2 separate regions of the Homo sapiens genome follow, and region 2 is linked to region 1. A link means that fine-mapping ties the variant in region 1 to the expression of a gene that starts in the linked region. Tissue or cell type: whole blood. Region 1 holds a variant in brackets; the other region holds the start of a gene. All regions are shown on one strand. Distances are between the middles of the regions. Region 1 has its middle 34 kb from the start of FOXI1. Region 2 holds the start of FOXI1 (forkhead box I1).

Region 1 (2,904 bases):
GCCCGTCTTGCTGCTGATGACTTTAGAGTCAAGTATGAGACAGGGCTGGCCATGCGCCAGTCTGTGGAGAGCGAAATCCATGGGCTCTGCAAAGTCACTGATGACACAAATGTCACTCGGCTGCAGCTGGAGACAGAGATCGAAGCTCTCAAGGAGGAGCTGCTCTTCATGAAGAAAAACCACAAAGAGGAAGTAAAAGGCCTACAAGCCCAGATTGCCAGCTCTGGGTTGACCATGGAGGTAGATGCCCCCAAATCTCAGAACCTCACCAAGATCATGGCAGACATCCGGGCCCAATACAAGGAGCTGGCTCGGAAGAACCAAGAGGAGCTGGACAAGTACTAGTCTCAGTAGATTGAGGAGAGCACCACAGTGGTCACCACACAGTCCGCCGAGGTTGAAGCTGCTGAGGTGACACTCAATGGAGCCGAGACATACAATCCAGTCTTTAGAGATCGACCTGAACTCTTTGAGAGATCTGAAAGCCAGCTTGGAGAACAGCCTGAGTGGAGGCCCACTACATCCTTCAGATGTAGCTCAACGGGATCCTGCTTCACCTGGAGTCAGAGCTGGCATAGACCTGGGCAGAGGGGCAGCTCCAGGCCCAGGAGTGCCAGGCCCTGCTGAACATCAAAGTCAAGCAGGAGGCTGAGATCACCACCTAACGCTGCCTGCTGGAAGACGGTGAGGAATTCAGTCTTGGTGATGCCCTGAACAGCAGCAACTCCATGCAAACCACCCAAAAGACCACCACCCACCATATAGTGGACGGCAAAGTGGTGTCTGAGACCAATGACTCCAAAGTTCTGAGACATTAAGCCAGGAGAAGCAGGGTCCACTCTGGGGAGCAGGAGGCCAATAAAAAGTTCAGAGAGCAAAAATAAATAAATAAATAAAAGGCCTGCATTTCATGGGCCATCATCTTTTTGTGTGTGTGCATCAACTAATTTGAGAACTGTGCTGAGAAAGATTCTGTGGTTGCAGTGGGCTGGAGGTGGCCCCCAGGACATATGTCCATGCCCTAACCCTGGAAGCCTGTGAATGGGACCTTATTTTAGTTTAAGAATTGGAAAATGTGAACACTCGCATTTGCAGATCTAACTAAGTTAAAGATCTTGGGATGTGCTTATCTGGGTTACCCAGGTGGACCCTAAAATCAATGACAAAC[G/A]TCCTTTTAGGAAACAGAAGAGGAGAAGACACGGACACAGAGAAGGGGAGAAGGCCACGTGATGACAGGAACAGAGATGGGAGTTATCAGCCATGAGCCAGAATGCTGTGAGCCACCAGAAGCTGGAAGAGGCCAGGAACAACTCCCCGTGGAGCCTCAGGAGGGAGCTTGGCTCTGTTGACACATTGGCCTTCAGAACTATGACAGAATAAACTTCTGTGTTTCAAGCCACCCAGTTTATGACAGTTTGTTAAGGCAGATCTAAGAAACTAATCCAGTGGCCTCTCAGCTCGATGGGAAGAAGCGCCCTGGTAGATCCTATGCCTGAGTGGGCAAGGGAGGCCACATGACAGGGCACGTGCTAAGGATCGAATGTGTTTGACTTGGATTGACCAGGTCTTCAGGCTGGGGCTTCCTCTGTGTAAACAGACACCAGATCACTCCATCACCGAGTGATTCAGCATAAAATGGTGCATAGATGGAGCAGGATAGAGTTCCTTTGTGGGAGTGGGAGGAGGGGTGTGGGGAGCAGTGGCAACACCAGTAGCTTTGTCATCATTGGCTGAATAATAATGAAGGGGGACAACATTTGGGGAACTTGGGGAAAGTAAAGATGGTGGCTGGTCATCTTTTTCATCCCCCTGCCTGCTGCCTGTAGGTAGGACCACAGTGAATTGTGACTCATCCAGGAAGATGATGGGGAAGTCGTCCTGGCTAGGGCTTCTGCTTCTGTTGGAGTCGCCCATTCCAAGGTTTAACGACCCTTCCCATCAGGGCTTTCCTATCACATTTGAGCCATTCACTGCCCCATTTGAACCTTAGTTTTCCTGCCCAATCTACAACCAAATATCAACCAAATCCCATCCATCATGTAACAAGAGGGAGCCCAGGGTGGAGACAAGCAGCCCAGGACGCTGGCTCACATCCTTTCTTGCTGTGTGATTTTGGAGAACTTCCTATCACTGGTCCTTAGTTTTCTCATGCGCAAGATGAGAAGAAATTAACAATGCCTGCTCCAAGAAGTTGCTTTGAGGATTCAACTAGATCACAGGTATAAACAAGACCAGTGCACACATTTAATAACTGTGCAAAATGTTCAATTTAAAAGCAAAATTTTGAGACAAACAAACAAAAAAAGCAAGCAAAATTAGCTGTCCCATTGAATTCCAGACCCTTTAGCCTTTCCTCATGGGTTTTCTTTAGTAATCACCATTTATTGAGCACTGACTGTGAGCCAGATACCTTCCATGTCATCTCATTCAGTCCTCGCAACAGCCCAGTGAAGTCAGTACTATTGTTATGCCCACTTAGCAGGTGAGGAAACTGAGGAGAGTGACTTGCCCAAGGCAAAGTATTAAATGGAAGGTCCACCTCTTAGCTATCATATAACTGAATCTCTGCACAGAATACTTCTCTCCTAGTGTTCCTTTGCTGTCTTGGTTTGGAAAGTGGACCCCATTGAATCCCCTTAGACCACAGACTCTTCGAGAAAAGGGAACACAATCCTTGGGGTGTTCTTACACCCAAAGCACTGGTGTGAGAGTCTCGTGCAGGATAAGTATCACTGTGCAGAAAACATGAATAAGTGAGTCAATAAATTAATAAATAATGGAGAGTTTTTAAGGACAACTTTATACTAAGATGAGGGATATTGACATTATCGTCTACCTTCCTGTGTGACACTGTGTCTGACAGCTCTTTCCTTTGTAAAATGGGGATAATAATATGCCCTCTGC
Region 2 (2,904 bases), 34 kb after region 1:
GACTGAGGGGCTTTGGAAGAACCTGTTTTCTAGTCTGAAAAGTGGGCCCATTGCCCCTGTCTTCCTCAGGCCCACTGAGAAAGGATCCACACCGGATATGGAAAGGAGCGTTGCAGCTGGGAGGTACCTTCCCGAGGGAAGGCCTGAACTCTTCCTGCTACCGTCTCTCAGCCTGAGGGTGATGGCAGTCCTTGGACAGGACACTTGCCCTCTTCTGGGGACAAACAGGCCTGGTGTTTGCCACCCTCAAATGGGGCAGAGTTGGGGTTCCTTTGAGCTATACCTTGGCTTCCTGCGGTGGAACAAAAGTGGACTTTAATTCTGGGAAATGGATGCATGAGTATTTAATACATGCCTCTCTGCAGGTCTCTGAGTTTTAGAAATGCATCGTTGAAAAGGAAAAGCTCACAATTTCTGATGTTAGAGAAAACTGAGTTCAAATTCAAGCTCCATCACTATCACTTCATTCTGTGTCACCTCTGAGTGTTATTTTCCTAATCTGTAGAATGGGTTTCATAAGAGCTACCCTGCAGGGGTGTCTTCGGGTTAAAGGAGGTTACCTAAGTAGAAACAAGGCAGGCAGCAAAATGGGCCATTAGTGGCTGTTTAACCCAGGTCAGATCCTCTTCCTGGCAGTCTTGGGATGCCCTTGGGCTTTGGTTGGTCCAGTCATTCATTCACCAAAGACTTTCTATGTGCTGGGTGCTGGAGATGCAGATGAATCGTAATTACTGCAGGCGATTAAGCGCTTGATAACACCTAAAACCTTGTGTACATTATCTCATCACCTCCACTGCAGCCTGCAAAGCAGATGCTGTCACTATCCCTGGTTTTCCGATGAGGGAACTGAGGCTCTGAGGTCTAACCTGCCAGAGGTCACTGACTGGGCAGGAGCACAGCCAGGGCTGAAACCCAAATCTTCCCCCAGGCCCATGCTCTCCTTCACTGCTGAGCTCCCCTCTGTCCTGCCTGGTAGCATCCCCCAGTCTTGGGGGGCACAGCCCTAGTCAGAACTTTCTAGAATGGGGTCTTGGGGAGGAAGGAAGTGAGTCTTCCTTGGGGACACCCCCCACACTCAAAGCCTCCTTACCCGGGTCGTCCTCGTCGCGGGGCACCTTCTTGAAGCAGTCGTTGAGCGACAGGTTGTGGCGGATGGAGTTCTGCCAGCCGGCCTTGCTCTTGTTGTAGAAGGGGAAGTTGTCGGCCACGTACTGGTAGATCTGGCTGAGAGTGAGGCGCTTGTCGGGTGCCCCGTGGATGGCCATGGCGATGAGAGCCGAGTAGGAATAGGGTGGCCGCACCAGCTTCATCAGCTCCTCCTGCGAGGGGATGGGCAGCCAGCCCAGGTCGCTCCCCCCAAGCCCCGACACGCTGGGCAGCAGCGGCCTCTGCACTCCATAGGCCTGGGGCAGGAAGGGGCTGGCGTTGGGGCCGGGCAGGTAGGGTGGCGGGGTCATGGTGGGCCCGTTGAACCAGAGGTAGGGGTTGGGGGTGGCCCCATACTCGCCGCCCCCCTCGAAGGAGGGCCGCTGAGGGCTGGGCACGCCCTGTGGGTGGAAGAAGTTCTCATAGTAGAGGTTCATCTCGGGGGGCTCCTGGCCGATGCTGGGGAACTGGGGGCTGCAGCGAGGTGGGGAGGGCGCCGGCAGGTCGAAGGAGCTCATGCTGGGGCTGGGCTGGCCGGAGCCACCTGCCTGGCACCTGCACCCCGGAGCTGCCCCTGACAGGTGCTCAGCAGGCCCGGCCTCCCACTTATACCCCTAGGGCTTGGCCGGGCGGCCCCACCCAGGGGCGGCCACCTGCCTGTGGATCCCAGCCCAGGGCCCGCCCTCCCTCAGCCTCCAGCCCACGGGGAGGGGACTTTCCCGCTGGCGCCTCAGGTCCCCACTAATGACATGCTAGACGGCTTACCAGAGCTGACACGCAGCGCAGCGAGAACGCCCCTCTATCCTCTCTCCCGGCTTTCTCTCCTGTCTTTTCTCACCATCCTCATGATTCCCTTCTTCTTTTTCTCCTTTATTCTGTCTTACTTCTCTCATTTTTTTTTCTGTCCTTCCCTTTCGTCACATTTTTCTACCCACCTCGGTTTCCTTCTCTCTCTCCCTCCTCTCCTCTCTGCATCTCATTCTCTGTTTCTTTCCTTCTTATTTTCTTTCCTCCCTTCTGCTCTGAACTGTGTTTCTTTTCTATGAACTGATCTGGCCACATCACAGCTGCTCATTCCCGTTCTCTCTCTCTCTCTCTCTCTCTCCCCCTCCCTCTCTCCCTCTCTCCCTCTGTCTCTAGGCTTCCAGTTCTTCTTTCCACTTCCATCTCTCGCTTCCATTCTCATTGTCTTCCCGGCTTCTCCCCTTTCTCCTTCTCTTTCACTCTGTCCCTTTCTCTCCACCTCTCATTTTCTCTGCGCCTCTCTTCCCATCCCCTCATTCTCCCTCCTCTTCCCCCCAATGTCCCCTCATTCTCTAACCAACTGCCCCAGCCGGGACTGGGTGGGACACTTTATCAGAAACCCTGTTTCTTGGTCTTTTGAGGTGAGGAGGCACTTTCTGGAGTTGCCAGGAGAGAACCGGCCCTGGAGACTCAGAAGAGGGCGCAGAGGGGCCTGGGCTGGCTTCTGGTGGGGTTCAAGGGGGCAACCAGTCATAGGCACCGCAGCCTCCCCCAACACACACATACACGCACACACGCGTACGCGCACACGCACACACGCGCACACGCACACGCGCACGCCCACACACGCGCACACGCCCACGCACGCACGCGCACACACGCACGCACACACACACGCATATGCATACATGCTGCAGACGGGCAGAGAACCTGAGAATTTGCCTGGAGAGCAGCAAGGCTCTTAAAAATAATAGCAAAAGGGGAAAATGGGGAATCAGTCTTCAGGGAAAAGTG

What was found. PIP is the estimated chance that this variant, and not a neighbour inherited with it, causes the effect.
Region 2: it holds the start of FOXI1, and the variant in region 1 is the best candidate, but not a certain one, in a credible set for the expression of FOXI1 in whole blood (TOPMed, PIP 0.79).

The regions. Positions count from the first base shown.
Region 1 is chr5:170,138,573-170,141,476 of GRCh38, reverse strand. It overlaps the pseudogene KRT18P41. Among named protein-coding and RNA genes, the nearest start is that of FOXI1, 34 kb to the right of the region's middle. The variant G/A (reference allele first, on the strand shown) is at 1,169.
Region 2 is chr5:170,104,718-170,107,621 of GRCh38, reverse strand. It overlaps FOXI1 (forkhead box I1), which reads right to left and starts at 1,725. Exons shown (of 2, transcript NM_012188.5): 1 at 1,091-1,725. The coding sequence starts at 1,664.